Homo sapiens: one gene and its partners. The protein of the gene in region 7 interacts with the protein of the main gene of each other region in a biochemical or structural test. Each region holds a gene or a part of one and is shown on either strand. Other genes may lie near its edges. The genes, in order: NRXN3, ARHGEF26, CLDN1, SLCO1A2, SBF1, AGMAT and CARD11.

The links.
Region 1: the proteins of CARD11 (region 7) and NRXN3 interact in a test that uses a peptide from one of them, tested with the Homo sapiens proteins (one large-scale study listed by IntAct).
Region 2: the proteins of CARD11 (region 7) and ARHGEF26 interact in a test that uses a peptide from one of them, tested with the Homo sapiens proteins (one large-scale study listed by IntAct).
Region 3: the proteins of CARD11 (region 7) and CLDN1 interact in a test that uses a peptide from one of them, tested with the Homo sapiens proteins (one large-scale study listed by IntAct).
Region 4: the proteins of CARD11 (region 7) and SLCO1A2 interact in a test that uses a peptide from one of them, tested with the Homo sapiens proteins (one large-scale study listed by IntAct).
Region 5: the proteins of CARD11 (region 7) and SBF1 interact in a test that uses a peptide from one of them, tested with the Homo sapiens proteins (one large-scale study listed by IntAct).
Region 6: the proteins of CARD11 (region 7) and AGMAT interact in a test that uses a peptide from one of them, tested with the Homo sapiens proteins (one large-scale study listed by IntAct).

What each region holds. Positions count from the first base shown.
Region 1 is NC_000014.9:78,173,373-78,176,872, forward strand, and holds part of NRXN3 (neurexin 3), read left to right. Parts: intron 1-3,500. UniProt on the Homo sapiens protein: Neuronal cell surface protein that may be involved in cell recognition and cell adhesion. May mediate intracellular signaling. Functions as part of a trans-synaptic complex by binding to cerebellins and postsynaptic GRID1.
Region 2 is NC_000003.12:154,236,390-154,239,889, forward strand, and holds part of ARHGEF26 (rho guanine nucleotide exchange factor 26), read left to right. Parts: intron 1-3,500. UniProt on the Homo sapiens protein: Activates RhoG GTPase by promoting the exchange of GDP by GTP. Required for the formation of membrane ruffles during macropinocytosis. Required for the formation of cup-like structures during trans-endothelial migration of leukocytes.
Region 3 is NC_000003.12:190,319,647-190,323,754, forward strand, and holds the start of CLDN1 (claudin-1), read right to left. Parts: upstream 2,801-4,108; 5' UTR 2,561-2,800; coding exon 2,338-2,560; intron 1-2,337.
Region 4 is NC_000012.12:21,332,118-21,336,078, forward strand, and holds the start of SLCO1A2 (solute carrier organic anion transporter family member 1A2), read right to left. Parts: upstream 2,801-3,961; 5' UTR 2,710-2,800; exon of another isoform or gene 2,593-2,709; 5' UTR 2,531-2,592; coding exon 2,471-2,530; intron 1-2,470. UniProt on the Homo sapiens protein: Na(+)-independent transporter that mediates the cellular uptake of a broad range of organic anions such as the endogenous bile salts cholate and deoxycholate, either in their unconjugated or conjugated forms (taurocholate and glycocholate), at the plasmam membrane.
Region 5 is NC_000022.11:50,447,768-50,451,035, forward strand, and holds part of SBF1 (myotubularin-related protein 5), read right to left. Parts: intron 884-3,268; coding exon 776-883; intron 678-775; coding exon 466-677; intron 1-465. UniProt on the Homo sapiens protein: Acts as an adapter for the phosphatase MTMR2 to regulate MTMR2 catalytic activity and subcellular location. Promotes the exchange of GDP to GTP, converting inactive GDP-bound Rab proteins into their active GTP-bound form.
Region 6 is NC_000001.11:15,582,252-15,586,393, forward strand, and holds the start of AGMAT (guanidino acid hydrolase, mitochondrial precursor), read right to left. Parts: upstream 2,801-4,142; 5' UTR 2,717-2,800; coding exon 2,445-2,716; intron 1,145-2,444; coding exon 942-1,144; intron 1-941. UniProt on the Homo sapiens protein: Hydrolyzes linear guanidino acids to form urea and the corresponding amines. Displays specificity for substrates having a negatively charged head group and short chains including taurocyamine, guanidino propanoic and butanoic acids.
Region 7 is NC_000007.14:2,907,868-2,911,367, forward strand, and holds part of CARD11 (caspase recruitment domain-containing protein 11), read right to left. Parts: intron 2,299-3,500; coding exon 2,183-2,298; intron 1-2,182. UniProt on the Homo sapiens protein: Adapter protein that plays a key role in adaptive immune response by transducing the activation of NF-kappa-B downstream of T-cell receptor (TCR) and B-cell receptor (BCR) engagement.

The DNA of each region.
Region 1 (3,500 bases), on a different chromosome or scaffold from region 7:
ACTGAGATACAGAAATCCATCGGCACCAGCTTTGGGGGCATGGAGAGGCAGCGGAGAGATGGGGGACGGGTTGTCAGTCTTGGATGAACAGTGGAGCGGTCGGGTTGGCGTCTGGGCATTGTGTGTGCTTGTGTCTCTGTGTGTGTGTGAAATTTTTTCATCCCACCACCAATCTCCCCCTCCATCCTCCCCCAATTCTGCCATGATCTTGCCTTCTATTTCCACACACTGCTCCCCCCACCCTAGGCGCACCCCCCCTTCCTCCAGCCCTTTCCATCTTCATGAAAAAAATTCTGATTTTGATGGCTCTGCGGCTCTTTTTTCCCTTTTTCCTTGCTTTTTTTTTTTTTTTGCAACACAACAGTCGTGCGATGGCCTTTCCTACATGCCACACGGATGCAGCCTTCTGATAGGAGGGCAAAGTCGGCACATCCACACACACACTGGCATACGCTCTTGCACACACAGTCTCTGTCACATACACAGGCGCCAAGGGCTTCATTTTGCTTGGTTTCATTCCCCTTAACCTCTTTCCCCACTCTACCTCCACCATGGCTCCTTCCCCCCATCTTTGCATGGGGACTGCGGTCACGTTAGAGCCTCTTTTCCTCTCCGCAACCGCGGTCTTCTTTCTTCTCGCCATTATTCTTTCCCTAAAGCTGTCGTGTGTCGCAGTTCATGGGATTAGCATGTTGGAGAGTCTTTGTGGGAGGGGACCTCACAAGCAGGGGATTGGAATGGGGGTAGATAACATTAATAATTTTTTTTGACCAAATAAGCACCCAGTGATAATGATCCAATTTAACCATCCATGAAATATATGTTTGCGGTACATTGGAGGAAGGTTATGTGGGGGAGGCAGAGTCTGACGGGGTTACCTCCGGGGAGATTTGATGCCTGGACAGTAGAGCCACAGCCCCCTCCCCCATACACATGTGTACACTCTCTCACACACACCAACACGCACAGCTCTGATCAGTGGGCTGTGTCGAACCAGAGGGCACTGCAGAATATCCCAGAGAGTTGTGATGGTTAGTTGGGAGGATGGAACAATGTCTTTGTCCGACCCAGTTCTCCTCTCTACAGATGATTCTGGGTCTTGAAATTCTTGGTGGCCTTTGTGTTGGTTTACGGGTGGGGACTGGAAGGGTGTTTGTGTTTTGTCAAGCACCAGCGTGCCTCCAATTGGACAACATAGGATTGTCAACACTGTGCGTGTGGTTCAAGCAGGAGGCTGCCTGCCTCTTTGTGTGGTGTGGCTGTGTTTGTTGGATATGTGCGTATCCAGCCTCATACGGTGGCTCTGGACAGGTGTGGTAGTGACGGGGAAGGAAGGCAAGAAGCAGGGATGGTCAGTGGGGAAGAGTCCTCAAGGTAGTTGAGAGGAGGGTAGAGGGGAAGAAACTGCTCCTGCCTCCAGCAGGAAGCCTCAAATGAGATCCCCACGTCCACCAAGCGAACCCGTGGGTGGGTGGCTCATGGATGACTGGTGGGCGGATACAGATTGAAGGGGGAGAAGGGGATGAGGTGGGTGAAATTGAGGGTTTTCCCTGCTGCCTTGACAGAGCCTGGGGCTGAGCTCGGGAGGGTGGTCTTGCTCCCCTGGCATCAGCCACCTCTTGGGCGGCTCGGCCTTGTTGGAGGCTGCAGCCTGAAGGAGCTGAAATCACCCTCGGCCGTGAGAGCAGCCCAGCCCCTGTTTTCTCCTGGGCTCTGGCTGCCTTAACTACCGGACGCCATTTTCCCATCTTCAGCTGAAGGTGTGTCTCTCTTTATTAGTAATTATAAGTGAAATTGGAAAACATTTTGCCTAAAAGAAAAAAATCACAAAATCCTCAGAGCAAAATGCTGATGGTCTTACCTTTCTAGCATCCCTCTCCCTTCTTGGGGCTGACCCTGAGGAGTTAGGGAGACAGGGTTACGTCATTGCCAGAGAAAGGGGATAAATGGGGAGTAGGATGCCTTGGGGGTAAATTATTGTGCCCAATGCAGAGAAGAGATTGTTCTTGGTATCCCCCGGCCGTGTTCTCCTTACATGACCCCTCAGGTGTGGATAGGAGACTTGCAAAAGAAGAAGCATTCCTTCTAAAACCTCACTGCCTAGAAATGTGCTGGCCCGTGGTCGGCTGTGGTCTGGGACCTGCTGTGGTCCGGTTCCTGCTGTGGTCCGGTTCCTGCTGTGGTCCGGGACCTGCTGGGGGAAGAACTGTTGCGCTGCAGCTCTGAGCCTTGAGGGCCAGCTCTGTTGCTCTGAGGATGAAGCAAGTGCGGTGCTGTGGCTGGGCCAGCCACAGGTGGCCATGCTGGGCTCGGGGCAGGTTGGCCATGCTGAGCTCGGGGCAGGGACTATGGATGGGGCCCACTCCCAGCCCTTTCCTGCAGGTTGTTCCTCAAATTATACTCCTCAGAGAGACCTTTCCTGACCAGCTTTCTAAAATAGTCCCCTTACCCCAACCTCCTGGCTGCTTTCCAGCCCATGACACTGTCTTTAATTTTAATCGGTGAATCATTATTTAATATTATATTATACGATGATATATTGAAACATTTAAGATGGATCTCGTCTCTTTACCCCTCTAGAATGCAAGCTCTGAGAGGTCAAGGACTTTGTGTTCATTGTGGTGTTCCTAGTGCGTAGGACATTTCCTGACACGTAGTAGGTGCTCAACAAATGTTTGTCGATTGGAGGAAAGAACCACATGGGTTTAGTGTTGGAGTTTTCTTCTCTAGCACTTGTGGCCTGTCTTCTGGGAAGGGTGGACTTTGCCTCTGGTTGTCTTAGCCCTGCCTGAATGTCTAGATCTGCTGGAGGAATTGCAACATGCTCAACTTCAGTAGTTTAGTAGAAAGGGCTTCTCTATCCCTGGCTCAGATGACTCTGCCTCCTTTGAGATCCCTCTAATATTAGTAATCACCATTCTCATCATCATCATAGTAGTGGTAGTAATAGTCGTGATATAGCTATCATTTCTGCAGTAGTTACTATTTACAAAGTTCTCTTCCAAGTTTTTTTTTTTTTTTTTTTAACACTCGGTATCTCATTTAATTCTCCAAACAACTCAATGCAGTATACTATTATTACCTGAGGAGACTGAGACTTAAAGTTACCTAATAAAATGACAGATCGAGGATTTGAATTCAGATCTGTCTCATGCCAGAGCCCAAGCATGGGACCCTTATGTTATAGTGTTAGAGGAAAAAGGGAGATGAATCATCTGTCATCTTATTCAGTGCCCTCAAGTACAAATGACAAGATGGAGGCCCAGAGAGACTACATGGCTTTTCCAAAGTTATGCACCACGTTTGATGCAGAGACAAAACTAGAATCAAGGTTTCCTGGCTGCCAGGGTAGGGCTCTTTCTACTCCATCATGCTGCCTGGTGGGCTGTGGGCCCTTTTCCAAGGGTATTGCAGCTGCTGCTGTGGGGGCTGCCTGGGGTGCCTTCTTAGTTCTCTTTCTTCAGAGGGGAGTGAGGTCTTGGTGGGGCAGGTGGGTGGTA
Region 2 (3,500 bases), on a different chromosome or scaffold from region 7:
TTGATGAGCAGCTGGTAAACTTGGAGCACATATAAGACAATCAAAGGAAGTCTCCATATAAACTTCTCCATGCAAGGAAAGATGGTTTTTCCATTTGCCCTTTTCTGAGCACTTTAACTTCCTCATTACATGTTCCAAATTGTTTCAGAGACTATATAAACCATATGTTTGTTAAACGATAGAGACAAACATGGGGAAGTCTGATTAGCATCAGCTTCCCTCAGGAAGGGGGTTTCTTTCCCAACCCTGTTTAGCCTGCTCCATACTTATTGGACATGGGGTAAATAAGCAGAGATGGGAAACGGGCTTTAAACAGCTGCACCTGGCTATAGAGTTTCTGCTCCTCTTTCTACTGAAGCACTACTGTTAAATGGAATTGTTTCTTTTTATAGTAGATTTCCTAAAAGAGCAGTAAGGAAGGTGTAAAGACCTACATTATTTATTGCATAATGCAGAAGTTTACTGGCCTAGACGAAGTAATGATATTGGATATTGGGTGATAGTAAATTACTTTAAAAACAAACAAAAAGGCCAACATGTTTCCTGCATTTTGTTTTGGACCCAGAAGTCCAGTGGGCCAAGTTCCTTGTTCAGGCATATTCAATGACACAACTATGCAGATGTGTGGAAATAAACACTTGAGGTGAAATCATATAGCTGTGATTAGGGCAGCCACAGTTTATCATTCAAACTGGACATTTGAGAGGACTACAGGCATAAACTGAGCCCAGCAGCCATCCTGGGTCTTAATCAGTGGCATTGTAGTTGTCATTGCTTAAGAGAACAATTAATAAACATTTTAAAAAAGTATCTACTTCTGTCTTTATCCCCCAAAGACAAGAAATTAAAGCATTTATGACTGAAAATTGAAAAAGAAGCTGGCTGGGTGTGGTGGATCAGGCCTGTAATCCCAGCACTTTGGGAGGCCGATTACTTGAGGTCAAGAGTTCCAGACCAGCATGGCCAACATGGTGAAACCCTGTCTCTACTAAAAATACAAAAATTAACCAGGCATGGTGGTGCATGCCTGTAATCCCAGCTACACGGGAGGCTGAGGCAGGAGAATCACTTAAACCTGGCAGGCGGAGGTTGCAGTGAGCTGAGAGTGCACCACTGCACTCCAGCCTGGGTGACAGAGTGAGACTCCGTCACACACACACACACACACACACACACACACACACTTAACTAGTTTATTCATATTAGCTTATATTCATTTTCTGTGAACCCTTGGTTTTGAATTCTATTGGGATGACTTGATAGGTGAAACCACTTTATGTTGACAACATTTTCGAATTTGAGTCATCTCAAATGATGACTTTATAGCATATTCATTTCTTTGACTTTTATTTCTTTGGAAATACCTACAACGCCTACACACATGTCATTGTTTAGGGCCTTACCCCATGTTCACAATATTAGGTTGCTTCCATTTCTCTTTCTGAAGCAGAATTGTTTTTAAACAGAAACAGGTGCCTTTGACTAACAGGTTTTTTAACTTGTAAATTGGACCAAAAGAGTAATCATAAGGGGCAGAGAGAAAATAGTAACAAAGAAGCCTCAGTTCATCCTCTTTTTCTCTTGTTTTTGATGCTGTTGTTGTTGAGGTTTTGTTATGTTTGCTGTTTTATCCTGGTTTTGGTTTTTATCCTGAGTCCTATGCTGTTCAATGCATGTCTGATATAGTATCTATACAACATGATAAACTTGTTCTGTGTTGCTAAAAATTGACTGCTTTGTTTCTAGTAAACATAGTCTTTTAAAAAATGACCGTATTTGTTTGTAAAGCGTATTATTCACCTTCCTCTTTTTATAAACATCATGTCTACTTTGATAAGTCTCATTTTGGATGTGAGAAATATTTGACATATCCAAGTGTGGGTGTGCTGGTCTGTAGGCAGTCTCAGGAGAACTTTGGAGATAATCGTGCCACACAATCTTTTAATTAATACAGATTACTATCCTAGGAACAATTAGGCTTGATCAGAAGGCAATATTTTGCTTTTATAGATAACTGCATTTGCTGTTTTTTGAGGGCAGAATCTATCAAACCAAATTTTAGAAAAGATTATAAAGTTTTTCAAGGAGCATGACAAAAGAGTGGTTGACAGGTAGATGTCCATTCTGAGGAAAATAAATTCCAGGAAATCTTGAGCAAAGTGGCCTGTTCTGAAATTCCTCCTAGTGTACTGGACTAGGCACAAGGAGTTTTCTTTTCTCTAAGCTCCCCTGACATCATTCATTTGCATTTATTATTAAATGAGGTAATTATTCGATATTCCTAGCGTATATTAGAATTTATTGCATATTCATCCACTTATGTGACAGTTATTTATTGAGCACTCTCATGTTCACTCGCAAGGGTGCAGGTGCAGAGTAGAGGAAAAGCTGTATGTCACCAGGTTCGGGATTTGCCAGGCAAATACAATCAAGGAGATGAATGTGTATGCAAGATGTGATTTAACTGGGTACCAAGAAATGCAAGCTAGCTAATTTAATATGCATGAACAAGAGGACATGAGGGAATTAAGGGGGGGAGGCGGAAGGTTGTAGAGTCAATGGGTTGTAAGAACTGGTGAGTTAAATAATGGTTGGTGTTGAGGATTAGAGGAGGTGAGTTGGAAAGAAAGGCCATGCTGGTTAGAGAGTGGTATGTTTGACACTGGGATTACAGAGAGTTTGTAGTTGATGGTAATGACAAGGACTAAGGTATAACCATGGATTTGTGGCTGAAGTAGGGCAGAAAACAAGATCATCGGAGGAGAGTAAAGTCGGGGAATTGAGGGTACAGGGTAATGGAAAGATCCTTTACAGGAGACTTCAAGAAAGAAGTAGTGTTGGGGACTTGATGTAAATGACCGAGAGAGAGAGGGAGAGAGAGAGAGAGAGAGAGAGAGAGAGAGAGAGAGAGTGTGTGTGTGTGTGTGTGTGTGTGTGTGTGTGTGTGTGTGTATGAAGAAGTATTGTTGGAGAGAGACAGAGAGCCAGCAGTGAAACTCAAGGGAGAGGATCGGAAACGATCCAGGGGTCTATAGATGACTGTAGTTATGAGTTAGAGACTGATGCCATGAGCTTCAAAGCTGATGATGTTTCAGGAGGAGGAAGTGATCATTGTATAGAAGCAGGAATAAAAAGCAAGCAGGCAGAGAGCTCTCAGGAGACGCCTTGTTCTCTAGGGAGAGCCAGGTTTCTTTTAAGGCAAGAATGTGAAGGGAGGGTTCAGAGACGAGGCCAAGTATTTAGAAGACTTTACTAGTTTCTTAAATGAGGGAATTGCATTCCCAGAGGGTACAGTGGAAGGGGTTCAGGAACCAGCTGAGGAGTGGAAAAAAGTGGGGCCAGATTGGGCATGTTCACAGTGCGATGGGAATGGGAGTGCAGGAGAAAGAAGGATATTGGGGTTCCTGAGCCTAAGCAGGAATGGAGGGCATAATGAGATTAGTCCTGGTGGTTTGTGAAACAGGTGGTGAGGCTCTGAGTGTGGGACACAAGGATGGGTT
Region 3 (4,108 bases), on a different chromosome or scaffold from region 7:
GGCAAGGTACAATTTCGGGAAACCCACAGCTAAGCTTTTCACCTAAACACACTTAATGAAATGCAGCTTTTTTCTGAGTGATACTGCTTAAATATACACACATAACCCTTTTCATCTCTACATGTAACAAAACTGTACCAAAACCAGCCAATGAATCACCATCCCAGATCTCTACAGCTGGTGGGCGTAAACACCACTGCTCAGGCAGAGAAATGAAGTAAGGTTTCCTGGGTTCTATCCAAAAGCATCCCGTGAGTCACGGCAGGTGAGAGGAGAACACCTGTGAGTCAAGGGTCCCTCTTCTGAGAATGGGTTTTGAGAGAAAGGCCTAAGCCACACCTTGGATAAACTATGGCTTTAAGTAAAATAAAAGTGGATTCTGATCTGGAGTTTTAAAAAAATAGGAAGACATCTCTAAAGTGTGTGTGGGGGGGTAGGTATTTAGTCCTTTCACCCTAGTTTTAAAAACTGTAATAACTACATTAACCAAAAAATGAAAGTAAAACATTTTAACACATTATCATGTGTAAGGATGATCCATTTGAGTATTTACAACATAGATCAATCTGATTTCATTTGGTCATTTCAGGAAGTTAAAAGAAAACCTATTTAAAGATGTTGAAAAGGAACTATTTTGATCAGAGGAATAAAACTGACAGTGAGACCTCTCTGGAATTGTCCTTAGAAACCTCCACCTGCCAATTCCTTAACGTGGTACCTAAAATGCCTGACACCGTTTCCTTAAATATATTTATCTTTCCATGGAGAAATTCAATAATTATTACCAAATTTTTCATTTTATAAGTACAAATATAACCCCTGAGGGCAATGAGCAACACATAATTACTAAACTTATGGATTGGTTTTGGTGTAAAGAAGTCCTGATATGAGAACCTTCAAAAGCTGAAATAATAACACTCAAAACAACCATGCACATTGACTGAGCAAATGCCACAGGTATTCAAGGTGTTCAAACAGATTTGGAACAGGTTTAATAACTCTAAACTATATGGCTTTTGATATACACTATTAAAAGTTGTCCCTTGATAGGAGGTAGACAAAACAAGTTAAGTAAACTTGAACAATGCCAACACTTTTCACCCTTAGCATGCAATGGGGGCCAGTGGGCAGTCACGTTCATCTAGGCAAAGACTAAGGGATCTTTTCTTCAAGTGAGTTAAAGGGCATAACAGACACATGATATAAGACAATTAATGTGATTTCTCAAGGAAGATACTCCAGCCGTGAATCATTATTATCTAAGTAAATGGGAATTTAATGACTTTTCGGACAAGGAACTCGAAACCTTTAATTTAAAAAACAAAGTAAAACAATTATCCTATTATCCTTCTTCCCACCATCCTTAGAAATATGTCTCTCTATACAATCCTTTCCAGTTTTACAGGGGGTCACTGAACATCCATTACACAGAAATTTCTTTGTGGAAGATGGAAACCTAAGGAAGACCCACCTCTTCTTTCTCTCTCACTGCCTTCCACTCCCAGCTGACCTCTGATTTCATCAGCTATGACTATTTTGCTGCATTTCCCTTCAGTGCCTTTACTTTTTTCTTTGTATTATGTTGCGCAGGTTATTTAGAACCTTTCTTGTCAGCCTTTCCCCACCTGCCACCAACCTTCTCTTTCCAAGATAGCACTACACCGTCAGCCTCTACAGAAGACCTTGGGTCTGAAAATTAAAACTTCGGGGGAATCTCAAGCAGCTTCTCCAAAGAGTCTTGCAAGGGGCCTCCCTGCACTAACTGGATCTTATAAATTAAAAGAATCAACCTCAAGCATAAGCAGAAGACACTTAGATAGGACATTTCCAGTAGGAATGTAACTTTTACTATGAAAAAATCATATTAAAGGTTAAAAAGTTATATCTAATACTTGAGGATTATTTATTTAAGCGTGCACACTTGAGAAGTTACCAGGCTTCAAACTTTTTCAGTCATCCCATTTTCTTGTCTGAACTCTACCAATCCTCAATTTACCCCAAATCTCGGAATGCCTAGGAGAGGTCTAAGAGCTCAAGTTCAAGTTTGGCCTTCACTCCCTCAACTCGAACCACCAGCATAGGAATTTAGGATGAAGCCACACCTAGAGTGGCAGAAGTGTCACCCAGGGAGTTAGAGGCAAAACTAGAGCTTATGCCTGGGCGTCGCTTTCCTCAAACCAGGATTCTCTTCATTTCCTTATGACAGAGCACATGATCAGAAGACTTGATCAACTGAAGACTGATAACCATGGAATCACACAACAGAATGAGCCCATAAGGGAGCTGCAGGGGGACTGGGGCCTCTGGACGGCCGCTGTGAGGTGGGGGTGCACTCACTGCTCAGATTCAGCAAGGAGTCAAAGACTTTGCACTGGATCTGCCCGGTGCTCTGCGACACGCAGGACATCCACAGCCCCTCGTACATGGCCTGGGCGGTCACGATGTTGTCGCCGGCATAGGAGTAAATCCTCCACTGGGGCAGGGCAGTGCTGACGATGGCGCCGATCCATCCCAGGAAGGCGAGAATGAAGCCCAACAGCTGCAGCCCCGCGTTGGCCATGACTCGCTCGGGCGCCCGCGCTGGCTCAGGGGTGGCAGGTGCAGAAGGCGGAGAGTTTGCAGGTGGGCAACCCGGACTCCCGAAGGTGGCTGGGCCCCGCGGAGGAAGTTAAGGCGGGGAGCCCTGCTCGCTGCGCCGCCGCTGGAGAAGCTCTGGGTCGGGGTTGGGGTCCGCGCCCGGGGCGGCGCTGGAGTCTGGATACTAGAAGCTGCGGTTGCTCCCAGGCTCGGGAACTGAGACGCAGAACCGCTGGGCGCCGCGATTTAAAGCAGCTCCGCCCGCCTCAGCCCCGGCAGCCGGGGAGCGCCCCCTGGCGGTTTCAGGGCGGCTCACCGAGAGGGCGCCGGGAGCGCCCGGTTGGGGAACGCGCGGCTGGCGGCGTGGGGACCACCCGGCAGGACCAGGCACCAGAGCTGCGTCCCTGCTCGCTTTCTCTCGTGGATCTTCTCGCTCCTGTAAGGCGTTTCACGCTTTTCATTCATTCACTCCAATTATCCAAAAATTACTATGCACTGTACTTGTAAATCCTAACACAAAGATGAAAAAATGATCCTTCAAGAGCTGCAGTTTTAGGTTTAATACTTTTTTCCCAATATCTTATTAAAAGGCATTTCTACCCAACTCCGCGTCTCCTCCCCCATCACACCATTTCTCTCTCCTTTGCTTGGCTTCCTCCCCCTTCTTTCCTCTCTCTGCTCTCTTCTGTCAAGGTCGTTCCATCACTTGTCTCTGCAAGGAGCCTCAGAGACTTTTACACTCTACAGATTGGGAAACAGACCCAGAGAGCAACATGATTTACACACACACACACACACACACACAGACACACTCACGCACGGAGCATATCCAGTACTTGGCTCCCCTCCCAATCTGCTTTCCACTACATATCAAGTTGACCCAAAATATCCCCTTTGATCTATGATTGTCCTTTTTGATGTATTATTGTCCTTATGAAACTGCAGGCTAGCAGCCCTTCCCCGCCAAACACCAACCTCCTCCCCACAGCAGTTATGTCTTAGAGCAGCAATTCATTATCAGAGGGACCTGGCCAGTGCCCCGCTCTCCCTGAAAGGTGTTAATTTTGTGAGTTATCAAATGTTGTTCGTCGCAGGTGAGGACATGTAAACAGCGTTTCCCCAGTGGCAAAAGGACTGGGCTGGAGTTGAGGAAGTCTGGGCTCTGGTTCCAGCTTTTACTGTGACTGGCTATCTCACCCCTCCGGTTTCGGTCTCGCTGGGACTGTAGTTTCCCTCTATGTTTCTCCAAAGCTTCCTTCTTTGTAGTTAGTCAGAAGTGCTGTTGTGGTTAGGAATCATTGAAATGTTTTTCCAACTGCTTTTTGTGTGTGGTGCGAGTGTGGTGGGAGGGGAAGCTTCTATGGTTTTAGTAAAAACAGAAGCATCTTGGAAGCAGAAATAAACATATTAAGGATAAAATAAGATATACCCTTATATACCATGGCAACTGCTAGTTGGTGACAGAGAAGGAAAGGTGCAAATTCTCAAGGTGGGAATGGGAAGAAAGGCCAAGCCCCACCACCTTCATTTC
Region 4 (3,961 bases), on a different chromosome or scaffold from region 7:
GTATAGCCTCAGAGAAGTCCTAAAAACATGTGTTCAAGGTGGAGTACAGCTTGCTCTTATATATTTTAGGAAGACATAATGCATCAATCAATACATGTAAGATTTACATTGGTTCAATTGGGAAGGTCAAGATAACTCAAAGCAGGAACTTGCAGGTCACAGGTAGATTTTAAAATGTTCTGATTGGCAATTGGTTGGAAGAGTTATTATCAATAATAAAAAATTATTTCCTGTTTACAATCAGGGCTTGTGGAGACCAAGGTTTTATCATGCAGATAAAGCCTCTAGATACGCAGGCTTCATAGAGAATGGATATAAATGTTTCTTATCAGACTTAAGGTCTGTGTTGATGTTAATGATGGTTGGTTATTCCTGAATTCCAAAAGAGAGGAGGGTATAAAGAGGCATGTCCAACACCTCCTTCCCATAACAGCCTAAACTTGTTTTTTAGACTAACTTTGGAAGGCTCTTGACCAAGAGGAGGTCCATTCAGTGCTGGGAGCAGGGGGTGGGAGGGTTGAATTTTATTTGTGGCTTAGAGGCTGTATATACTGATTCATAAACTACCATCTTTCTCACTGTGTCTTCACATGGCAGAAAATGCAGTGAATCTCTCTTAGTCCTCTATTATAAAGCCACTGAACCCATTCATAAAGGCTTTACCTTTGTGACCTAATCACCTCTCGAAGGCCCCACTTCCTACTGCCATCACCTTAGAAATTAGGATTTCAACATGGGAATTTGGATGGGACACATTCACACCACACAATACATCTAAGCCAAAATTTATCAATTATTTTTGTGAGACCTAAATAGAAATTTATGTGAAAAGGACCTAGAAATTTGAATAGCATTCTTAATATGAATCAAAACTGATTGACTACAGCATAGTATGGCCATATCTCTAGCTATTTTTTATATTGAATACCATTTGTGGATATTCTCTCTTCCCACTATAAACCTTCTCAGAGTGTATTCTTAAGAGCAAACTATTTTCACCTAGTTTTATAAATCAGATTTTATATTTAAAAGCAAGTCCTACTAAATCAAGTACAAATCAAATTTGGAAAAATAATTTATTCTACTTTACATGTTAAGAAAAGAAATTAGATGGATCATGACCTCATTGCTTTTCCCCTAAAACACATGGGTTGCCTAACTAGTTTGGTTTTATTCGCAGAGTGAAAGAAATCAGTGGCTATTCTGACTCATGTCTAGTGCTAAATAATCTCTGTATTTATAAAGCTGGTCCTACTAGCTTCTAGCAATAATGCCCTTTCAACTTATTTCAACAACAAAGTTTAAAGCAAATTTGTTAAAAATAGTTCTTTCATGCTTCCTAATGAATTTTGCTTAATGAGTATATTTCTAAGTTCAGAGAAACAGAGAAACCTAACTTGCTATTAAGCAATTGCCTCTCACTTTTACCTGATAAACTTGTGCTTACAGCATTTTGTCTTAACATCCACATTAATATCTAACCTTGCTAAACTCCAAAGCAATCAAAAATTAAAGACCTCTTGTTTATAAATACCACTTGACTTTTCTCCACAAATGCTTTTAATATTAATAGCTAATATTTATTGAAAGTTTACAATATTCCAGTCATTGTTTCAAACATAAAAGAATCCTATAAGGTGGGAATGTTGCTATTACCCTTTTCAGATGAGAAAACTGAAGCACAAAAAGTTTTTCTTAATTAACATACCATTTCAGGCAAGTCTATTTTTTTTAGATTTATATCATAATTCTCCAATTTTGTATACATGTTTAAATTTCCCCAACACACATATAAATGGAAAACAAACTTCTGATAGGGAGAAAATGAGTGACAGTGTCTTAGTTTTGAAACCACTTGCAGGCACTAGCTATAGAATCAGGACAAATGTCCAGATCCCTTGGTTTATCATAAATTCAAATTTGTTTGAATATAAATGACTTTGAAGCTAGAAAACAGAATTTTCTCTGAAATAGAAAAAAAAATCAGAACAGCTGACAAAATGGCCATTTTTCTTACAGGAAATTATTGTTATGTTGCCAAAGCTTAAAGAAAACATTTGTTTTGCTGGGTAATTGCATACAAATCAACAAAGCATTTCTGTGCAATGAGCCATTTTCGGAGAGTGACTCCCACATTTCTCTGGGTTAGAAACCCTGCAAGAGTGAGCATGGCCTTTGATCCAGAAAAATAAATCCTGCCACAGTATGTGTGCCTGGAAATTTTTAGGATCCTGTCTTCCATTTAAGTCTCTCAAAGCCATTTAGGACTAACTTGCCTGAATCAATAATCCTGTGTAGACACACCCTCAGTTATAAAACCAACTTCTTTAAAGCAAGAAATTATCAATAGAACAGGCAATATGGCATTAATATTAGATCACTTCATGCAGATAGGAGCAATTTTACCAGGACTGTCGTATTTTAAAAACTAGTGTACATGCACATATATCCACATACAAAAATTCCATACCTTCAACTTGGAAAGACATCTTATTCTATGGGTTTCAATTCTTTTCTCAGTTTCTCCCATGTTGCTCTTCAGGGTGTTCCAAGCTATTTATGTTTTAAATCTTGATATGTCTTACTTCTACCCTTTCAAGCAAACAAAAAAATATGTTAAATTAACTACAAAATTGTAAAGCATCATTCTTTTGAAGTAAGTGCTGAAAATGAACAACATAATTGAAATCCATTGCATTACAAAAATACCTGGAACGCTTTAATACAGATTAGAAAATCATGGTGTTAGAGAAGATTTAGTTGTTGGTTTTCTATTTCAAAAGGTACATCAAATAACTTTAGTGACTCTTTAGTGAGATTAAAGATATTAGAATTGTTTGTTATGATCTTGCAAAATAATGGTCACATGGTTAAAAGAAAGCTTTTCACTTCTCTAGCCAAAACAAATAGTACCAAAAGACTTCCATGAAAATAGCTACTTTTAATAACACACATACTTTGAGTTGTGTTTGTACTAAAAACCTGCTTCACTAACCCTACCAAGGCTCAAAAATCTTTTTTTGGCCAGGCTCTCTTTTCAAGTTATTTGCATTCCAAGGCTTCCCTAGAGTCTCAGGAAGGGAAACACTTTCTGGGGCACTGCTGATACATGGAAACCTGGGGAGACACGGAATTTTAATCATGAAAACAACCTAGTAAAAATAACAAACAATTCTATGATCTGGAAAATAATCCCACGATTGCAAACTAAGATGTAAGACTTAGGAGATTAAACATATAAATGGGTATCTATATGTAGCTATACGTAATAGGTATAGATATATGTGGAAATATATGTACAGATGTATAACATACAGGCACACATTTTTATATGTAAAACAAAAAGTTGAATTAAACTCAAATAAATTCTACTAATCCCATCAAAGATTTTGTTTGTTTTACATCTTGAAACTAAGGCAATAATTTGTATCAAAACCAAAGTGTTTCACTTTGGCAATATTTATTCTAGTTTCTAGAATGATTTCTTAACAGTATCCCCAGCATTAATTAATTAAGTCCTTTAAACAATATCCATTTAACAAGTGATCCTGAATGGCACTAATTTTTTAAAAAACCAACTGCTTTACCTCTACAAATGTGCTGAATCCCAAACACACACACATCAAGGCATAGTCGCTGCACTATTATGTTTGAGTTTTGTTATTTTAACACATTCTCTCACAGATACAACAAATACTTATTGAACATCTACTCTGTGCCAGTCATGGTGCTACGCACCAGCATTCAGCAGTGAGCAAGAAAGCCAAGTACGTGCCTACAGAGAGTATAAACTAGCGAGAGAAGTATGTTTCTGTGGAAGATACTTGGACCCAGATTCCAAGGAACTTAAACTTTCATTGGGAAAGATAAAACTTTTAAATAAAACACATTGGAATAGAACCAGACAGTGTAGAAGGAAATGCAATTTGCTTGGTATGTAAGTGGTGAAAAAATTCACAGG
Region 5 (3,268 bases), on a different chromosome or scaffold from region 7:
CAAAGAAGCCTTTGATGGGGGGCTGCAGGCCCAAGAAGACGACGCCCAGAAAGGAGACAGTGAAGGGCGCCTCACACCCTCCAGACTCCAGGGAGCATCCCCACACCAGAGCCTCAGGGTCTTGGGAAAGCAGCCCCCTACACAGGGCAGGCGCCCTTACGAGGAGAGGGATGGCCAGGCAGGTAGATCTGTAGAAGCAGCCACGGCAGCAGCTGCCTGGGATGGATCCTGCCAGACTCCAGACTCACGGGGGCCCCACCACTGCCCTCTCTCTACTCCTCCCTCAGCCACTGCAGGCTGTGGTCAGCTGTGGTCACCAGTTCGACACCCCAAACCCCTCCCAGTGGTGGTGTATACTTAAGCAAGCTCCTCAAAAGCACCCGCAATCTCCCACCAGAGGACTGCCTGGGACCCCAGAACACCAGCTCAGAGGTGTCCATGTGGCAGTGGGAGGTGCCCTCATACCTGTTCTCACTCTCTGCTGTCTGGAACTGGCTGTACAGGGTGCTGGTGCTGCGGCGGGCAGCCTGACGGGAGCCGGATGTGGTTGAGCCACTACTCTGGTCGCTGTCCAGGCTGAGGCTCAGGGTGGAGCCCACGGGCCCCTCCTGCAGGTACACACCCAGCGAGCGACGGTGGTGGGGTGCGGTGGACACAAGGAGGGAGCTAGGGGTGCCCTGGGAACAGGAGGTTGGGACTTGGGTCAGGGCTGGACAGACTCCACTTTCTCCCAGCAACACGCCCACCGTGGACGCTCACACTGGCCCTCACTCACACGGCCGTCTGGCCGGCCCTCGAGGCGCTGTGCAGCCTTCACCCGGTCCCAGGTGTCCTTCCAGCGCTCAGCGGGTTGGCCCAACTCTGTCTCCAGCCTCTGCAGCTCCTGGGGGAAGAATTAATGGCAAGTTTATTCAAAAGGAAATATCCAGACTAGAGCACGAAAAGACAAAAGGAAAACACAGGAAAGAGACACAACGGAAAGGCCTAACGCGTGTGTGACTGGCCACAGGGGGAGGTGGCAAGAGGGAGGGAAGGAATATGCAAAATGAATATTCGGAGACAACAGTTGAAAAATTTCCCAAACTAACCAGAGGCATCAAACAACATAATCAAGAAGCACTACAGACCCCAACAGGGTAAGTTAAAAACACACACCCCGGCCAGGCGTGGTGGCTCACGCCTGTAATCCCAGCACTTTGGGAGGCCGATCACCTGAGGTCAGGAGTTTGAGACCAGCCTGACAAACATGGAGAAACCGCATCTCTACTAAAAATACAAAAAGTTAGCCCAGCATGGTGGCGCACGCCTGTAGGAGAATCGCTTGAACCTGGGAGGCGGAGGTTGCGGTGAGCCGAGAACGCGCCACTGCACACCAGCATGGGCAACAAGAGCAAAACTGCTTCTCAAAAAAAAAAAAGACCACACAATACTGATCTTCAACACTGCAGGGTCCACAATGTCCAGCTTACAATAAAAGAACAGCAGAAAAATGGAGAAAAACATTAAAATAGACCCTGAAATGAAACAGGAGTTAGAACATACAGTAAATTCAAGAGAGTGATTTTAGGGCCAGGCGCGGTGGCTCACGCCTGTAATCCCAGCACTTTGGGTGGCCGAGGCGGGTGGATCACGAGGTCAGGAGTTCAAGACCAGCCTGGCCAAGATGGTGAAACCCCAACTCTACTAAAAATACAAAAATTAGCCGGACGCAGTGGCAGGCACCAGTAATCCCAACTACTCAGGAAGCTGAGGCAGGAGAATCACTTAAACTCAGGGGGCGGAAGTTGCAGTGAGCCGAGATCACACCACTGCCCTCCAGCCTGGGCGGCAAAGTGAGATTCTGTCTCAAAACACACAAACACACACACACACACACACACACACACACACCCCAAAATGGGACAGAAAAACTGCTGAAAAACAAAGAGAAAAGTCCCAAAACCTGCCAGAAGAAAAAAAGACATGCTCTCTTTGAAAGAGCAACAATAAAACTGACGGCTGACTTCAAAAGAGAAACACGAGGCCAACTGTCAACTTCCAGCCATGACAGATAATTAGTCTGAACAGCCCTCCCTCCATATGCAAATGATGAAACTGGACAAGAAGGGGAAGCCGTTGTTTCCAGATGTCAGACAAGCAGTGCAGCTTGAGAGACAGGAGCCTAAGACATGGGACCACATAAGATGGGCCCCACAGTCACCTGTTTTCTGCCCAGCCACAGTGCAGGGAGGCAGGGCCAGAGCAACACACGGGAGCTTGCTGAGCCGAGGAGGCAGAGACGGGACGTCCAGGGGCGCTAGTGCAGCTGGGTCTGCAGGGCAGCCCACAGAGGGGAGGGAGCACCACAGCAAAGGGGCTCTAGAAATCTAGACAGAGCCCTCCTTGAGTCGTTGGCCAAATTAGGCTGCCATGTGCAAAGCAAGATGTCACAAGGCCTGGCAGAGAACAGCTACTAAGAAGCTATGACCTGACGCCGGCAGCAGTGGCTCACACCTGTAATCCCAGCACTTTGGGAGGCCAATGCGGGTGGATAACCTGAGGTCAGGAGTTCAAGACCAGCCTGGTAAACATGGCAAAACCCTGTCTCTACTAAAAATACAAAAATTAGCTGGGCATGGTGGCGGGCACCTGTAATCCCAGCTACTCGGGAGGCTGAGGCAGGAGAATTGCTTGAACATGGGAAGTGGAGGCTGCAGTGAGCCGAGAGTGCGCCACTGCACTCCAGCCTGGGAGACAAAGTGAGACTCTGCCTCAAAAAAAAAAAAACAAAACTATGAGCTGAACCCAAATTCTAGAGGAATGCTAAAAGATACTGGACTTCCAAAAAGCCAGTGTGGCAAGACCTTACCGAAGACACAAAGACACAAAACTCCAACTGAAGCCCTGGAGAGGCCACACGCCTTGGGCTGCTCTATCCCTGGAGCTTCTCTAGAGGTGCTGGAGAGCTGCCCAAACAAAGCTTAGAAACAAGCTTCAAACAGACCAAGCTGACGCACAAGCTCATTACCTACCTGCGAGAATAAAACCCAAGACTCTAAGCTTAAAGAAAGACAACACAGGCAGGGCACAGTGGCTCCCGCCTGTAAGCCCAGCACTTCGGGAGGCCGAGGAGGGAGAATCGCTTGACCCAAGGAGTGTGAGAACAGCTTGGGCAACATGGCAAGACCCCATCTTTATATATATTTTTAAGTTATGTTTCAAGATTTAAAAGAAAAGATGGACATAATGGTTTATCAGATGGGGAATCTCTACAATAAAAAGCGTTAAA
Region 6 (4,142 bases), on a different chromosome or scaffold from region 7:
GTGAAATTCTGTCTCAAAAAAAAAGAAAAAAAAAAAAGATATGCCATGCTTGATGCTGGGCATTTCATGTGCACTTTCATTATATGCCCCTCACATCATGCAGTGAGTAGGTGTTACTGTGATCATTCCCATCTTACAGGTGAGGGTGTGAAGCATCAAGCACGGTATACAGCAACATTGCTAGGGAGAAGTGCAGCTGAGACTTCAAACCATGCCATCGGGAAACCACACTCCTCCCACTATGCCATGCAGGCTAGGCTCTCTAACTTGGCAAAAATGAATTTGGATATTTAGGAAAAGATCCCTGTCATTTTAAGTATTTGTGAACAAGAGAAAAAGTGAGAGTGGGTCAGGGGTGAGGATAAGGGGAAAGCTGCCCTATAGGTTGATGTAGACCCTGAGCAGGACAAAAACACCCTCTTTGCAGTTCTCCTCGCAAATAAAGTCATTAGAAACATCATCTTGGCCAGGCGCGGTGGCTCATGCCTGTAACCCCAGCACTTTGGGAGGCCAAGGTGGGCGGATCACTTGAGGTCAGGAGTTCAAGACCAGCCTGGCCAACATGGCAAAACCCCGACTCTACCAAAAATACAAAAATTAGCCAGGCATGGTGGTGGGCGCCTGTAATCCCAGCTACTTGGGAGGCTGAGGCAGGAGAATTGCTTGAACCCAGGAAGTGGAGGTTGCAATGTGCCGAGATTGCACCACTGCACTCCAGTCTGGGTAACAGAGTGAGACTGTCTCACACACACACATACACACACACGTGAAATATTCTCTCCCCAGGGATTAAAATAAATGAATTACAATGCTCTCTTTCCTACTGTCTGCACATTTGCAGTGGCTTGCAGGGGAGAAGTAGCTGTACTCAAGCCCCTGAGTACAGGATAAGTAAACCCTGAGTGCAGGGAACTACTCTGGCTCTTGCAGACTGACATTACCCAAGGTCAGAGGAATACAGCCAGCTGCTACAATTTTCTCATAGGCCTCTTGAATTCGCCGGCAGCTGTCCTGAAGGTTGTAAAGATTGACATTCACATCGCCTAGGTCTGCAACCATGAGGGACTGGAAGGGGAGGGCCCCCGTGCTAGGATTGACTGTCCCAAGCATCACTGATTCTTCCCGGATGCGGCGAGGTCCGAATCTGCAGAAGGAAGAATCATCCTGTCAGCCATCATCTGCAGAGATTTCAGGCTTTGCTTAGGCCAGGGCTTCTCAGCCTCAGCAATTTGGGGCCAGATGATTCCGTGTCGCGGCATTGCATAATGGAATGCTTAGCAGCATCCCGGCCTGTACTCACTAGGTGCCAGTAGCACCCTTCCTCCAAGGTGTAACAACCCAAAACGCCTCCAGATACTGCCAAATGTCCCCGGAGTGCAAAACCGCCCCACTTGAGAATCACCGATCTAGGCTATGTATCGAAGAGACTAAATAAGTGTACTAAATGGCATTAGTGAATTTCATGATCTACCTGAGTCTCAGTTTCCTAATTTGTAAAATATTTACCTTGCACTGTAGTAAAAATTAAATGAGGTAATCTATGCAAAGCACCTTGCACTTAGGAGACATTTAATAAGTGCTGGCTTTCATAATTCAGATCAGTACGGTCAGATATAGTGTTGCTGAGCTGAATCAGAAATTGCTGACGTTCAATAACTAGGAAGATGAATTTTGCTTCCTCCGACTTGATCCTAGGAAAATTGCCTTCATTTGAGCATTTCTTGAGTCAGGTGACATCTTCAGATTTGGGGAAGGGGCAGCCAGTTTCTGCTCTCAAATGCAATGTCACCTGCCACTGTAAGCTGGGGAGAGGAGAGGGGAGGAATCCACAGCAGCCATCCCAGCAAGGCCCCAGGATGGGGACACAGAGAAGGTTCAGGCTCCAGAATCCCTTCTTTTTTCTTTTTTTGAGACGGAGTCTCACTCTGTTGCCCAGGCTGGAGCGCAGTGGCGCAATCTCAGCTCACTGCAACCTCCGTCTCCCGGGTTCAAGCGATTCTCCTGCCTCAGCCTCCCGAGTAGCTGGGATTACAGGCCCGCGCCACCATGCCCGGCTTTTTTTTTCTTTTTTTTGTACCTTTGTAGAGACAGAGTTTCACCATGTTGGTCAGGATGGTCTCGAACTCCTGACCTCGTGATCCGCCCGCCTCAGCCTCCCAAAGTGCTGGGATTACAGGCATGAGCCACCGGGCCGGCCAAAATCCCTTCTTGACCAATGATGACACTAAGATGTGGGAGGCCACGCCCATGTTGAGCCCTGGGGTTTGCTTATTGAGGGTCCAGGTAAATCAACCATCTCAAACCATAAGGGGCATTTTGGAGCCGGCCACCAGCTTCCAACTCGACCCGGGGCCAGCAGGGGCGCCTGTCTCGGTGCTTTCCATGCCCGACAGCCAGCAAGCAGTCCCTCCACGTGTACCCGGCCCCCGTCCTTCCGGCCTTACCTCGCCCCAGGCCGGTTGGAGGTCCCAGTATCCAGGGGCACCCCGATGAAGGCAGCGTCCAGCCCCTCGGGGGAGGTCTGCACCGGCAGGCGCATCATGGAGCAGACGCCCACCGGCCGGGCCACGAACTCGGGGCTGGGGGGCTGGTTCCGGGGCGCGTCGGAAGCCTGGCGGCTCTGGCGGCGCCCCGGATGAAAGAGCCCTGCGGCAGGACGCGCGCCCACGCCGGGCCCCGGGCCCCGGGCGCACCCGGACGCCAGCAGCCTCAGCATTGCCGCGCGCGGCCAAGACCTCACCGACCAAACCGCCCGCGAGGCCGCCGCGATCTGGCTGGTCCCGAACGGCGAGGCGAGTGTGCACGCGCCAGAGCCGGAACCCGAGCCGGCTCAAAGGTCAGGGGCGCCCTAGGATCAAGGCGGGGGAGGGGCCCCAGGACCTGCCGTGCTCTCCCCTCAACCCCTCTGGACTTCAGCCTCTGGCAAATAGAGTCAGGCTGGGGGTGCCCACTGGCCGGCACTGTGCCAGGGGTGTCTGCGCCCTGCTCCCCACTGTGGCCTTCAGCAGCCTCTTCTCCCATTCAGAGTAATTGTTTGTTTTTATAGAGACGGTCTCACTGTGTTGCCCAGACTGGTCTCCAACTTCTGGACTCAAGTGATTCTCCCACCTTGGCCTCCCAAAGTGCTGGGATTACAGGTGTGAGCCACAGCAGCCACCCCAGAGTAATATTTTTAAAGCCAGAAAGATATGAAGGAAAATGATCTTTCTCTAAGCCAGAAAAATAGGAAATGCATTTTTTTAAATAATGTATTTTTAAATGTCCAGGGATAGGAATCTCAAGAAGCAGTAAAGTTAGTTAGCTACTTAGCTAGCTAGCTAGTTATTTTGAGACAGGGTCTTGCTGTGTTGCTCAGGCTGGAGTGCAGTGGCACAATCATAGCTCACTGCAGCCTCAAACTGCTGGGCTCAAGCAATCGTCTCACCTCAGCCTCCCGAGTAGTTGGGACTACAAGCGTGAGCCATCGCGCCTGGCCAGTAAAGTCTTTTTAAATAACCTTGTTAAAAAAGGACTAGAGGCCAGGGGCGGTGGCTCACGCCTGTAATCCCAGCACTTTGGGAGGCTGAGGCGGGCGGATCACGAGGTCAGGAGATCGAGACCATCCTGGCTAACACGGTGAAACCCCATCTCTACTAAAAGTACAAAAATTTAGCCGGGCATGGTGGCAGGTGCCTGTAGTCCCAGCTACTTGGGAGGCTGAGGCAGGAGAATGGCATGAACCCGGGAGGCGGAGCTTGCAGTGAGCTGAGATCAGGCCACTGCACTCCAGCCTGGGCAACAGAGCAAGACTCCGTCTCAAAAATAAATAAATAAATAAATAAATAAATAAATAAATAAATAAAGGACTTACAGGCAAGCTGTAAGGAAGGTCACAGTGCCAGAGAACCTGTTACATCCTCTTTATTTCTAAGGGGAAAGAAAAACACACGTGGAAAGAAAGAAGTGATTTGTAATGGAATTATGTGAGCCATTTAGCAGTATTATATATATTATTTTTTCTGATCTCTAAATGTTGAGATTGAATGGAAAAGGCTCACATTTGCATTTACGTTGCAACCTCTACACAAAGGTTGCACATTAGGCCAGGCGCGGTGGCTCACACCTGTAATCCCAGCACTTTGGGAGGCCGAGGTGGGCGGATC
Region 7 (3,500 bases):
AGCCAGGCATGGTGGTGGGCACCTGTAATCCCAGCTACTCGGGAGGCTGAGGTAGGAGAATCTCTTGAACCTGGGAGGTGGAGGCTGCAGTGAGCCGAGATCGTGCCACTGCACTTCAGCCTGGGTGACAGAGTGAGACTCCGTCTCAAAAAAAAAAAAATACTCCATACAGTATTTTTGTTGTGATACACACTGCACCATAAACACATTCCCAGGCAGGACAGATCAGGGAAGGGGGTATGTACCATGCTAGTATTTCTCATGCATTAAATGTATTATTGTTTCTTTGTTTCAACTCTTTTTTTGTTAACAGTTTGCAAGGTTTTCAGCTCTTGCCACCTTCCTAGCCTGTATGGATGGGCCCTATTGTGTGTATTCACTCCCCACAGACCGACCCTTAGGTGACGTCTACGTTTTGGCTATTGGGAGTAACGCTGCTGTGAACACGGGCGTGTATATGTCTCTTACAGACCCTGCTCTCAATTCTCTTGGGGATATGCCCGCAGGTGGGGTTGCTGGATTATATAGTATTCTATTTTTAATTTTTGGGGGCATCGCCATGCTGTCCTCCACAGTGGCCGCTCTCTTTTGCATTTCCAGCAGCTGTGCACCGGGTTCCGACGTCTACCCTCCTCGTCAACACTTGTCAGTTTCTGTCCTTTTGGTCCTGGCCAGCCTAACGGGTGTGAGGTATCGAGGGGGATGCCCGTCTCTTTTGCTCACTGCTGCGTTCCCCAGAGCCTAACCCTTCACAATGGCTCAGTGAGTATCTGGTGAAAAGGAATGAATGGGCCTAAACTCTCAGTCTGTGATTCCCTCTGCAAAATGGTGGCAGGACATTTATTTTGCAGGTGCGTGCGAGGAGGGGCGGGGATCCGAGATGAAGCCACTTAAGGGCCAGTCTGTCCTCATCACCCAGGCCCCAAACCTCAGCGCCGTCCTTTCGTTTTTTTTTTTTTGTTTTTTTTTTTCTGAGATGGAGTCTCACTCTGTCGCCCAGGCTGGAGTGCAGTGGCTCGATCTCAGCTCACTGCAACCTGCCCCTCCCACGTTCAAGCGATTCTCCTGCTTCTGCCTCCTGAGTAGCTGGGACTACAGGTGCCCGCCACCACGCCCAGCTAATTTTTTTTGTATTTTTAGTAGAGATGGGGTTTCACCATGTTGGCCAAGCTGGTCTCAAACTACCAACTTCAGCTGATGTGCCCACCTTGGCCTCCCAAAGTGTGGGGATTATAGGCGTGAGCCACCGCGCCCAGCCTCTGGTTCTCTGGAACCCCAGAGTGAACCCTTTCCCGAATCCTGCAGGCTCGACCCTGAACACGGATTCGGAGTCAGACTGCCTCTCATCGCCTCTCAGACAGAAGCCCGGCCCACACCGCCACCCTGCCCGTGTCCAGAGGTGAGAGGTGCGTTTATACCCTAAAGTGGACCATGCCACCTTCAGTGGCCTCCAGATGCACCCAGAACAAGATGTCGCAGCCTCCCGTGGCCCTGCATGGCCTGGACCCGCTGCCCCTCACCCCTCAGCCTCTCACTCTCCGTCCCTCACCCTCCGCCCCTCACTCCTCAGCCTCTCACCCCTCTGTCCCTCACCCTCTGCCCCTCACTCCCCAGCCTCTCACCCCTCCGCCCCTCACCCCTGCGCCCCTCACCCCTCCACCCCTCACCCTCTGCCTCTCACCCCTGCGCCCCTCACCCCTCAGCCTCTCACTCTCCGTCCCTCACCCTCCGCCCCTCACTCCTCAGCCTCTCACCCCTCTGTCCCTCACCACTCCGCCCCTCACCCCTCCGTCCCTCACCATTCCGCCCAAACATCTGTCTCAGGGTCTGAGCACCAGCTGTTCCCCTGCTGCCCAGATTGCGTCTTCTTTCTCATCTCCTAGGCCCCCCTCACTGCCATGGGTCTCGCTGATGGATACCCCAGGCCTTCCCGGACCACCCTGGGTGATGGGCACTCCGCCCCGTCCCTCCCAGCTCTTGTCCCCTGGGATGCGCCCCATATGTGAGTCACCATCTCGGCCGCTGTCCTTGGCATCAGCTCTGCAAGGTCAGTCCCGTACTTGGTGAGGGTTTACAAAAGGGGTGCATGAGGTGGGGGCACACAGGCCTCCTGCGATCCATGGAGGCTTGGTGGGGTGCTAGGGACAGGAGGGGACAGCCCTTAGGGGTCTGGGAGCCCTACCTGAACCTCTTGATGTTCTTCTCACACACCCGGATGAAGAGCACGATGGGGTAGATGTTGGACTTGATCAAGTCTCTTGTGCAGCCGATCCCAGCCTCCAGCAGGCAGTGCTTGTTCTGCGGGCACAGCGGCTTTGGTCAGCAGCAGCCCACCCACCTCCCGCTCCTGTGAAGGTGCCTGCAGCGGGGCCTGGATGCAGGGTTGGGGTCTATAGCGGGGCGGGAGCCCTGAAAGCCACCTGCCGCTGATCCAGGAGATGAGACCCCCACATGAGTCTGGACACTCCAGGACTCTGCTGACCACAGTGATGTTCATGGGCAGAGATGAGGCCCCGGACGGGGTGAACCAGGTGGCGTGAATGAGTTTGAATGAAACACCTGCTACCAGCCGGGCGTGGTGGCTCACGCCTGTAATCCCAGCACTTTGGGAGGCCCAGGCGGGCCGATCACTTGGGGTCAGGAGTTCGAGACCAGCCTGGCCAACACGGCAAAACCCTGTCTCTACTAAAAGTATAAAAATTAGCTGGGTGCGGTGGCCCACGCCTGTAATCCCAGCTACTCGGGAGGCTGAGGCAGGAGAATCACTTGAACCCGGGAGGTGGAGGTTGCGGTGAGCCGAGATGGTGCCACTGCATTCCAGCCTGGGTGACAGAGTGAGACACTGTCTCAAACACACACACACACACATACACACACACGCACACACACACACACCCCAAAACACCTGCTACCCTAGCCAGCCTTCAAGTAAGAGGGTAGGGAACACATGAAGGGTGAGGCGGCGAGGCTGGCAGGTCCCAGGAGTATCTGCAAGGTTCTCAACCATGAGCTCATCATTTTGAGAAAGGGCAATTTCTGCTTTGCTGAAGGCATCACTTAAAAAAAAATTCCACCAAATGTTGGCATGGTGGCTCATGCCAGCAATCCCAGCACTTTGGGAGGTGGGAGGATTGCTTGACGCTAGGAGTTCGAGACCAGCCTGGGCAATATAACAAGACCCTATCTCTAAAAAAATTAGAAAATCATTAGCTGGGCATGGTGGTGAGTAACTGTAGTCCCAGCTACTCGGGAGGCAGAGGCGGGAGAGTTGCTTCAGCCTAGAAGTCGCGGCTGCAGTAAGCCGGGATCATGCCCTGCACTCCAGGCTGGGCAACAGAGCGAGCCCCAGTCTCTAAATAAATAAAACATCAAACTTTGCATTGGAATAGAACATAAACACAGCATTCTAAGCATGCAGCTCAGTGAATTTCACAAACTGAACGCAGTCTAGCACTCGTGTCTGGAGGTGGGAATGACCCCCCTCGCCCAGGGTCTCCTTG